2 separate regions of the Homo sapiens genome follow, and region 1 is linked to region 2. Evidence: fine-mapped expression QTL. A gene starts in region 2. The other region holds a variant in brackets. All regions are shown on one strand. Distances are from middle to middle. Region 1 has its middle 31 kb from the start of CD40. Region 2 holds the start of CD40 (CD40 molecule).

Evidence for each region. PIP is the estimated chance that this variant, and not a neighbour inherited with it, causes the effect. A credible set is the group of variants that fine-mapping cannot tell apart.
Region 1: its variant is the best candidate, but not a certain one, in a credible set for the expression of CD40 in fibroblasts (GTEx, PIP 0.75).

What each region holds. Positions count from the first base shown.
Region 1 is chr20:46,146,444-46,151,925 of GRCh38, reverse strand. No RefSeq gene overlaps it. Among named protein-coding and RNA genes, the nearest start is that of CD40, 31 kb to the right of the region's middle. The variant T/C (reference allele first, on the strand shown) is at 2,153.
Region 2 is chr20:46,115,536-46,120,766 of GRCh38, reverse strand. CD40 (CD40 molecule) reads right to left here and starts at 2,453. Exons shown (of 9, transcript NM_001250.6): 1 at 2,373-2,453. The coding sequence starts at 2,423. RefSeq lists enhancers at 97-186, 1,231-1,580, 2,591-2,650, 2,416-3,232, a silencer at 2,455-2,674 and a cis regulatory region at 1,174-3,271.

The sequences.
Region 1 (5,482 bases), 31 kb before region 2:
GGCCCCACCAAGGTCCCACCAAGGTCCCGCCGAGGCCCCACCAAGGTTGGGAACCGGGCTAAATGGAGCAGGGAGGATTGAATGGAGGACGCCAGCCAGGGAATCCTAGAGAGGACACCAGACAAGATTCAATTAAAATGCCAGCCTTGGTGAGTTCCCCATTTTAATTTTCAACAAATTAGCTTATAAAGGGGGGGATGGAAATGAAGATATTAGATTTTTTTTTAGAGCCAAAAGGGAAAATCTTTTGAGGATTATATTCCTTATTTCTTTTTAAAAAATAAAATAAAATCACTCTTAGCCAGAGGATTTGGGGGATTTTCGGGCTCTACCCCCCTTGGAGGTGATTTTCAGGACCTGCCTGTTACGTGCAGGATGGTAACGGCTTTATAACAGAGAGCGCCGTCTCCTGAGCCAGCACGCACTGTGCGCCTTCCTCACCAACCCTCAGGTCAGCATCATTGTACCTGTTTACACGTACCTGAGGCCCAGAGAGATGAAGTGATTTGTCTGAGGTCACACAGCTAGGAAGTGGTAGAGCCCAGTTCCAGCACGCATGTGTTTCCCACTGCAGCCTGGCTCTTGTTCAGCCGAAGACCCTGGTCCAAGCCTCGTCCTCACTCCCTGGTCCCCATCACCCCTCTCCAGGAAACTGCAGTGTTGAGAATGGAGAGACAAATAGACTCCAGCCTGCCTGCTGCATCCTGCAGGACCCGCCGGAGGCCATTAGTATTCCAGAGGCCCCACAGACTTCCTGGCCTTCACCCAAGGTGGGGTAGGCCCCCCCTCCTGGCTTCTCCAGTGATTTCTGACACCACCACCACCACCCCCAATGCAGGAGCTGAGTCTTGGTCTGCCCTTAGGTAACCTAAGCCTGGGATCCAGACCATCCATCTCTGTCTTCTGGCAAAGGCCAGCCCCTGCCCTTTCCCCCAAGTGACTGGCCCTGGCAGCCAGTGCTCTTGGTCTCACCGCAATGTCCTCCACTCCCATACCCCCACCCCATCCTCCTGTCTACTGAAAATAATTCGTTTTGCCAGTGTGGAAATAATACAAGCTTAGATTCAGCAACAGCATACCCTCCCCAGCGTGCCACCTAGGCAACAGCCCCCCACCCCCGCCACCGAACTCCAAATCCCAAGGGCATTCCCAAGCTCTGCTCCAAGACCTGGGGCAGCATCCTGGCAGATACAAAGCTCCCACTCTTCTGGGCTGTGTGCTCTTGGGCAAGTGGCTTAACCTCCTTGTGCCTCCATTTCCTCATCTGCAAAGTGGGTATTATAAAAATCTAGCCTGAAAGGTTGTGGTAAGAGTTCAATGAAAGCACAGACTTGCCAGGCCCTGGTACAACAGAGGATGCTTGGCAAATGTTACCCTTTCCCTCCAAAAACTGGAGGCAAAGGACCTAGTTGGGATGGAACTCTACATGGGAAGAGGTAAGGGAGGGCTGAAAGAATGAGACAAAGCTCCCATGCCAGGCGTAGTGGCTCAAGCCTGTAATCCCAGCACTTTGGGAGGCCGAGGTGGGTGGATCACCTGAGGTCAGGAGTTCAAGACCAGCTGGCCAACATGGTGAAACCCTGTCTCTACTAAAAATAGAAAAATTAGCCAGGTGTGGTGGTGTGCACCTGTAATCCCAGCTTCCCAGGAGGATGAGGCAGGAGGTATCGCTTCAACCGGGGAGGCGGAGGTTGCAGTGGGCCAAGATTGTGCCGCTGCACTCCAGCCTGGGCAACAGAGCGAGACTCCGACTCAAAAAAAAAAAGGGCTTCTGGTACTGGAGTCCATTGAAGCATCGGGGAGCCCAGGGACAGATAAAAATGTCTCCGCCGCCTTCCTGGCCCCGTAGAAAGAGCTTAGAGTCACAGGGCAGGTGCGCAAGGGCAGACCTCAAACTTCCCAGATCAGTGGTGTTGCAGCAGCTTCCCTGCACAAGGACCGGAGCCTGGGACTGGAGGTGCCAGATCCTCAAGGCTTGGTATGAGCTTGTTGAGGGGGTAACTCTCAGATGCTGCTGGTAGCTAGAGGGCTGGAGTCTAGCTTGGGCAGCTAACTGAATCTGGGGTTATGCCAGATCTGTGTGTGAGCAGAGGTTTGGGGGATGTCTGCACTAGAGAATGAACCCTGAATTTGGGGCTGGCTCTTGTAAAGC[T/C]CCAACCTCAAGATTCGGCAGATCTATTAGGTGGGTGCAAAAGTGAATGTGGTTGTTGCCATTCCTTCCAATGGCAAAAATCGCATGGATGCTGTGAAAGCTGAGATGGACCGCAAGCCCGTCTATGAGCCCACGCCTGCGAGAGATCAGAATTTGAGGTAAGCCATGAATTTGGAGCGCCCTCACAGTGAACCTCAAAATCTTGGAGTATCTGTGAGCTTATGTACGGGGGTCATCTGAATCTGGATGTGAACTCACATCCAAGGAATGGGGTCTGTTTGGGAACCCAGTTTATGGGGGCCACACCAGTCCTAGAGGTGTGTTTGGGAAGGACGCGGGCCTCTCAGGGCAGTAAGGAGTGACTCTATGGCAGATCCCGAGCAGCTAGTGAAGACCCAGTTCCCCATCGTTTTGATCATCCTGCACCCCTCTTTCAATGCACACAGTCCTCATAACCTTGGTCTCACCACTGCCCACCATCCTGTCCTCCCACCCCCAGGTCTACTCTGAATTGCTACCTCTCAGGGAATTACAGTTGCTGAACTCCAAGTCTCAGGTGCGCTCACATTCCTTCCCTGGGGCAAGAAGAGTCAAGGGATGAGGGGAGAAAGAGCCCGCCATTCCCTCCTCCTCCGACAGCGTAAATCCTCCCCAAATCGCCCTTCAGGGCCCAGGAAAAGCAGATCCGATTCTTGGGGAGCTTGGAGGCCTGCTGCCTTATCTAAGTCTCTGGAACAAGCATTTTGCATTTATTTCCCCAAATGTGTTGCCGAATTGCGTTCCAGCCCATGGCTCCCAGCCATCTGCAGAGAGAAATCCAGTTAGACCTTGTATAATAAGTTCCTGACAATCTTGCTGAGGATGCTGGGTCATAAAAGTCTCCTGGTTTTATCGCCGGTAACAGACACGGAGTGAAATTGAGTTGTCTTATCAAATTTAGATAATATATATCCCTCTAGAGTAGCAGGCTCTGCATGGGGCTTTCATGGTATGAGCCCAGGAGGGGGATAGGGAGTGGCAGAGTGTTCCTGGGGATGTGGCTCAGGGTGGGGGCCGTCCTGGAAAGCCTGGCAGGACTGACAGGCAGCAGGGTAGGGTTACTAGCATCCCAGGTTTCGATGTCAACAAGACCTGGATTACAAACCTGTGTCTATCATTCCCATGCTGAGTGAACTTGGAAAATTTACTTTACTGCTGAGGGCCTTGGTTTCCTCATCTGTAAAGCAGGCAGATGCCTGCCCCCTTGATTATTGTGAAATGTAAACAAGATGCTACATGCAACAGGCTTAGCCCAGTGCTTGGCATGTAGTGAGCACTCAATACATGTTGTCTGTGGACTGGACATGGCAGCTCACACCTGTAATCCCAAGGCAGGAGGATCGCTTGAGGGCAGGCAGGAGGATCGCTTGAGGCCAGGAGTTTGAGACCAGCCTGCACAACACAGGGAGACTCTGTTACTACCAAAAAATAAAAATACAAAATTAGCCAGGCATGGTGGCCTGTGCCTATAGTCCCAGTTACTAGGGAGGCTAAGGCAGGAGGATCACCTGAGTCCAGGAGGTCAAGGCTGCAGTGAGCTATGATCACACCACTGCACTCCAGCCTGGGTGATACAGCAAGACCTGTCTTAAAAAAAAAAAAAAAAACTCTGTAATTTGGGAATGGGAGAAAAATACTCTCTGGTCCATTCTCTTCCCATTTTACCGGTGGAGAAACTGAAGCTCAGAGAGGGAGTGGACATGGATGGTGGTCACACAGGCAGGCGGGGTTCTCAGTCTCTGCTTCAGGGCTGAGCAATCCCAACTGACTGCCCCCGCAATCAGGCCTTCTGCAAGAGGCTGGAAGTTGCCCTTTCCTGCCTCTGCTTAAAGTCCTGCCATCCAGTGCCTTGCCCAGGAAATGGACATACACGGTAGGAAGCCTGGGTCCCTTGGCTCCAGGAATGGACTCTCAGGACATTGCCAGTGCCGGGCTTCTCTAGGGCTCCCCAGCTGGTCCTGGGAAGCTTGTCTCACTGTCCCAGGAGGGGACGATCGTACCAGAATTGACCTACTTTTCTCCCACAGCCAAGATGCCTCTCTCTGGCAACTTCACACTTTGGTTTACATACCTCCAGTGATGTAGAGATCGTTACCTTACCAGGCAATCATTCCGTTTCCCTATCTTGGACTTAAGACAACCCCAAATCTTCTGACTTCCAAGCTAAGACTCATTCATTCTAGAACCACACCCTGCCACCACAACTTTCTTTCAGCAAGGCCTGAGTATGTGTGAGCCTGCCTGTGTGTTGGTGGGTTTCTCTGTGTGTTCCGCACTGTGAGCTCTGAAGGGAGAGGAAATGAACTGGTAACAGTTCTGTATCCCCAGGACTCAGGGCCTGGCACACAGTAGGCACTCAAAAAAAAAAAAGAAACAGTCACACAATAGCTAACCTTTACTGAGCACTCCGTGTCAGGCATGAATTCCATGTGCTAATTTATTTAATCATTATAATAACCCTGGGATGCAGTTACCATTATCTCCAGTTTACAGAGAGGCAACCTGAGGCAGAGAGAGGTGAGATAACTTGCCCAAGGTCACACAGCCAAGACACGGTAAAGCCAGGATTTGAATGGTGAGAGTCCAGAGCGGTTATTCATACCTCCCAGGTGAAGATTATTTGGAATTAAAAAAGGGAAGGGGAAAAAGGAAGGGCAGACCCAGGTAAGTATCTCTGTCTCCCCCAAATAGCCCGGCTTCTGGAGGGCAGGAAACATATATTACTCATCTCTCTCTCTCCCAGAATCTAGTACAGTGCTTGGCAAACATTAGTGGCCAGTAAACAAGAAATGTTTATTGAATGAATGTTTAAGCCAGGCATGGTAGCTCACACTTGTAATCCCAGGACTTTGGGAGGCTGAGGCAGGAGGATTGCTTGCATCCAGGAGTTCGAGACCAGCCTGGGTAACATAGAGAGATCTTGTCTCTACAAAAAATGAAAAATTAGCCAGGCATGGTGATGCACACCAGTAATCCCAGCTCCTCAGGAGGCTGCTGGGGAGAGAGGGGTCTCAAGGCTGCAGCAAGTCGTAATCGTGCCACTGCACTCAGCCTGGGTGACACAGTGAGACCCTGTCCTCAAAAAAAAAAGAAAAGAAAAAAGAAAAAAAATCACACATGAATGTTTATACATCATAGGCATATTTTTCTCCCCCACTATCCCTAGAGCCCTTGAGGATCAGGAACTGAACTATCTTCATCTCTGTAGAGCTGCCACTAGCCCATTCTGTGTGAATTAGAAAAAGGTACCCCCTCTGGGCAGGCAAAATCCTGTGGATTCAGCTTGGCAAG
Region 2 (5,231 bases):
ATGTAAACCTCACATCATTGCCAAGAGACAAGAACCAGTATCACTTCTCATAAATAAAAGGTAACCCTAAAAATAAATTCTGGGGAAACAAAACAAGGTTATTAAAACCCAGCTGGTTGTTTGCTTGTTGAAGGCCCTCCCAGGCCTGCTCTTGATTTTTGTTTTAAAAGAAGGATTAGCAAGCCTTTGAGAGGCATTAACTCTATTCTAGCTCCAGAGACTTCCTCTTTGAAAAAATGAGAAGGATTTTTAAAAGAACTGTAAAGTAAGTGTATGTTTAATTCTATGTCCATGTGCTCCTTAAAACTGTCCCACAGTTTGGGAACAGCCAGTGAAAAGAACACAAGTTTGAGAGTCAGACAGCTTTAGACTCCAGTCCTGACTTTGTAACACTTACTAGTTATTTTGCTTCTCTTAGCCTCAGTTTCTCTATCTCTAAAATGGGAGTAATAATGCCTGCCCTGCAGGTTGGATTACGAAGATAAGAAAGAATACATGTATATGGCCTAGCACAGTGTCAGGAACATAGTAGGTGCTCATTAAATGGCAATTTTAATCATCATTCATTTGTTTCTGCTTGCATGATATATGGCAAGCAGCCCGGCTACCTGGCTGGCTGTCCAGAATCCTACCTAACTGGTGGCTCTCATTCAACCTGGGTATCTCAGCAAATTACTTACAGAAATGTGTCTTACCCAAAATGGGAAAGGAAGTAGAAAAGGCTACTGCCCCCCACCAGCTCATTGCAAGACACCATCCTGTGAACGTGGAGCTCCCACACTCCCAAAGATAGGAAAGTCCTTGATACCATCTTCAAACACATGAGAAATAAAACGCTCCCCTAAAAGTCTGTCAATCTCCAGTTCTCACTCCCCATAGTTCTGGTCCTTCTGCCACAAAACAGCTCAGGACCAGAGCTTGGAGACTCTCACTATCTGAGAGGCAGGCTCGGGAATCATGCAGATGTAGATTCACAACCAGGTTCTTCCATTAGCTAGCTATGAGACCTTTGGCAAGACAATCCCCCTTTCTGAGCCTCAATTTGCCCATCTGTATAATGGGGGAGTTGTGAGAAATCAGACAAAGAAAACAGGCAGTGTTTGGCTCAGAGCCTGACACACAAGAAGCCCTCAATAGATAGCTTCTGACATTGTTGTCACAGCCCAGCCTCTACCTGGAGCCAAAGTTGGGAGTTATGAGGGCAAACTCTGCTCTTGAGAAGCCTGGATCACACCCTTCACCCCACCTCCTCTGGCTCTTTCTCCACTCCTACCACAAGGGCCCCCCTTTACCTCTTTCCAGCTCCGCCCTCCCCCTGCCTCCCTGTTCCCTAAGAGCCATTGCTTCAGGTGAAAGTGAAAGCTGTGGGACCAAAGCAGCCTCCCCACTCCCTCTCTTCCCTTGCTGCTTCCCTTGCTTTCCTTGATACCATGGGTCATTCCTGCCCAGGCTTCAGGCAGGAATCTACAGCCCTCTAAAGTAGGGGGAGGCCAGAGGGGCTGGGATGAAGGAGCCAGGTACTTGGGGGATTCCCAGCCTCCAGAATGAGGAACTACAAAAATACATTTAAACAAAAAGTGAGTCAAGTGTAGGCTTCTGAAAATCCCGGAGATATGCTTGGTTGGCTCTGAGCCCCTCTGGTGCCTGGAGAAACCCCTGGTTTCTCCAGCCCTCTGATCACCAGCCCTGTCAGAGCCAACCAGAACTCTGGTCTCCTAACCCTTTATTGTGTCCCATAAACTGTTCATCTCCCCAGGGGTCTCCTATGTCATCTTAAATTCAGGAGAAAAAGGCAAAGCCCTGGGGATTCCTCCTAGGTTGGAACACCCAAGATACGGTTCGGGGTGGAAGGCGATGTTAAAAGCTCCTTGCCTTCTCACAAAAGTACCTGGGCCTCTGCACCCATCTCTTGTTCCCACAAGATGCCCTGGAAGAAGGCAGCCCCAGCTGGCAAGGAGATGATAACTACTTACAGAGGCTGGCATCTGTCCACAATAAGAAGGGGACAGGAAACGGGCCAGACCCGCCCCTTCCCTTGGTCCGCCTCACTTCCCGCCCTCTGAACCCCCTACCAGTCTCTGTGTGGCCAGCCTCTGAGGCTCCCTAAACCCGTCCAGGCCGTCTAGGCACGCTTGGGCAGCCAGTGCCTTCCCTGAGCGGCCCCTGTAGGCCGCTCCCGGGACCCCAGCCCGGGAGAAGAGAGAGGCAGCCCACCCCATTCAGCCAGGAGCGGGGGCACCTTGCCCAGCTCCCACCCACCCTCCTGCCCCCACAAAAATCAGCCAGGAAGGCCTCTTCCCCGAAGTCTTCCTTCCCTTTCCTTCTCATTCCCCACTCCCAACTCCCGTCTGGTCGGGGCAAAAACAACTCACAGCGGTCAGCAAGCAGCCCCAGAGGACGCACTGCAGAGGCAGACGAACCATAGCGAGGTGAGACCAGGCGGCAGGACCACTGGGCGCCCGAGCGAGGCCTCTGCTGACTCCCCTGCCCCAGCCTTGGCCCCGCCCAGGAAAGGGGCGGGGTCTTCAAAGACCAATCGCGGTCCACCTATCGGGGGGGCGGAGCCCCCAGCAATTCACCGCGCAGGAGTTTCCCCAGAACATTCCCACAAGTCTAATTCCCCCGGGAGTTTAGGGACGCATCTTGCTGTGTACGGGAGGAGGCATGGTCCCAGAGACAGCTCTTCTTCTTTGCCCCCAGGTCCCACAAAGGCCAAGCCGAGGCGGGCTAGGAGCTAGCCTGCTTCCTGCGACCGGAGAGAGATCCCATGGGTGCTGGGGCCTGCCACAGGGACCCTCACGGTTTTCCCCTCCCTGCCCCGCTCTCCGCTGCCTCTAGGTATCCTGGCAGAACCGAAAGAGGCTCCACTGCGGAGAGGCCTGAGGAAGTTCCCCCCACACCACCACGCAGAAAACGGGAAGGCCACAGCTGGGGTATGGGGAGGCGTTTCAAGGAAGAGTTTCCCAACTCAGAATTTCGCTCTCTTTCAAAGGAAATTCCCTCGTGTGGGCGCGTCGTCTCAACTTCCCATCCATTCATCCATGCATCCATGCGTCCTCACCTCATTCCATTCCATCCCACCTCCCACCCAGCACCTGGAGACAGGCATTTATTAAGAGTGGGGCCGGGCGCGGTGGCTCACGCCTGTAATCCAGCACTTTAGGAGGCCGAGGCGGGCAGATCACTTGAGGTCAGGAGTTCGAGACCAACCTGGCCAACATAGTGAAACTCCGTCTCTACTAAAAATACAAAAATTAACCGGATGTAGTGGCGTTCGCCTGTAATCCCAGCTACTCGGGAGGCTGAGGCAGGAGAATCGCTTGAACCGCAGAGGCAGAGATTGCAATGAGCCGAGATCGTGCCACTGCACTCCAGCCTCGAAGGCAGAGCAAGACTCAGTCTCAAAAAAAAAAAAAATAAATAATAAATAAAAATAAAAATAAAGGTGGGGGCCAGGCGCGGTGGCTTACGCCTGTAATCTAACACTTTGGAAGGCCAAAAAGGGAGATTGCTTGAGGCCAGGAGTTCAAGACCAGCCTGGCAACATGGCAAGACCCCCATCTCTACAAAATAAAGAAATTTTTAAGTTAGCCAGGCATGGTGGCAAACACCTGTAGTCCCAGCTACTCAGGAGGCTGAGGCAGGAGGATCGCTTGAGCTCAAGAAGTCAAGGTTGCAGTGAGCCATGATTGCAATGATTACATCACTGCACTTCAGCCTGGGCGACAGTGCAAAACTCCATCTCAAAAAAAAAAAAAGAGTGGGCCAGCCTTTTGTGGCATCATAAAACACTTTAAGTATGTTAGGAAACTCGGGACCCTCTCATTTTGCAGAAACACACACACTTGTGCCTACATTTCCTGGGTTCATGAACTCTGAAGACGTGCTTTTGTTTTTTTGTTTTTTGTTTCGTTTTGTTTTTTGGGTGTTTGTTTGGTTTTTGGTTTTTGGGTTTTTTTTGACAGAGTCTCATTCTGTTGCCCAGGCTGGAGTGCAGTGGCATGATCTCGGCTCACTGCAACCTCTGCCTCCTGGGTTCAAGCAATTCTCCTGCCTCAGCCTCCCGAGTAGCTGGGATTACAGGCTGGCGCCACCACGCCCAGCTAATTTTTGTATTTTTAGTAGAGACGGGGTTTCTCCACGTTGGCCAGGCTGGTCTCAAACTCCTGACCTCAGGTGATCCGCCTGCCTTGGCCTCCCAAAGTGCTGAGATTACAGGCATGAGCCACCGCACCTGGCCCTCAAGATGTTCTTGAACCAGTGTTAACACTCTGCTTTGCAGCATGGAACACCTGGGTTCTGGTGCAGCCTCTGCCTCTGAAGGACTGTGTTCCCTTAGGCCTAAATTTTTCTCCAAGGAAAACTTAGGAGCTTGAACTAGACAACGGTTGAGGTGATGACCCTCCAAGCTCTCAATTTCTGGAAGAGGACAAGAGGCCAGACCTCACAGATCAGGGAGGATGGAAGAGGAGGACACTTCTAACCCCATTCTCATGGCTTCTGCTGTTAAGGGCACATTTGCAAGTCTTGTGGATTCTGCCTCTAGGATCCATCCCTTATTTTCTGTCACCTCTGCCACTGCCCTAATTCAGAGGGTGCCATCTTTCATCTGGACTGTCCCAACAGCCTCTCTCATTCCACAGGATTTATTGAGCACCTACTATGTGCCAGGCAACTCTTTACACTGCTGCGATTCTCTTGATAAACTCCAGATCTGATCGACTGGGACACTTTCCTGCATAAAAGCCTCTTTGGGTTTCCCTGCACCCTCAGGATGATCCAAATTTCTTATCCTGGCAAAGCACACCCTTCCTCACTCAGCCCCAACCTCTCTTTCTATGCTTACTTCCTGCCACGTCCTCCCATGCACACTGGCTTCAGCCTCTCCCCACTTCCCAGGCACACAATCTTTTTTCCTTACGGTTTATCTCATTGCTCTTGATGTTTCCTTCCTTTCCTTCTCCTTTCTTAAACAGTTTAAATGTTGCCTCCTCTTACACCTTCCCCAACTCCCTGAGGCAGAGGTAGGTACTCTATCCCACCCTGCCTCCTCCCCTGTGTTGCCACAGCATTTAGCATGCCAGCTCATAACTCCTTCTGCCTGGTCCCATTTGACTGTGAGCTCCCTGAGGGCAGGACTGGATCTATCCCAGTCCTAGGTACATAATAGGACACCAATATATGGGTGCTGAATGAATGAATAAATGAATGAGTGGGTTCAGCAACTTCTC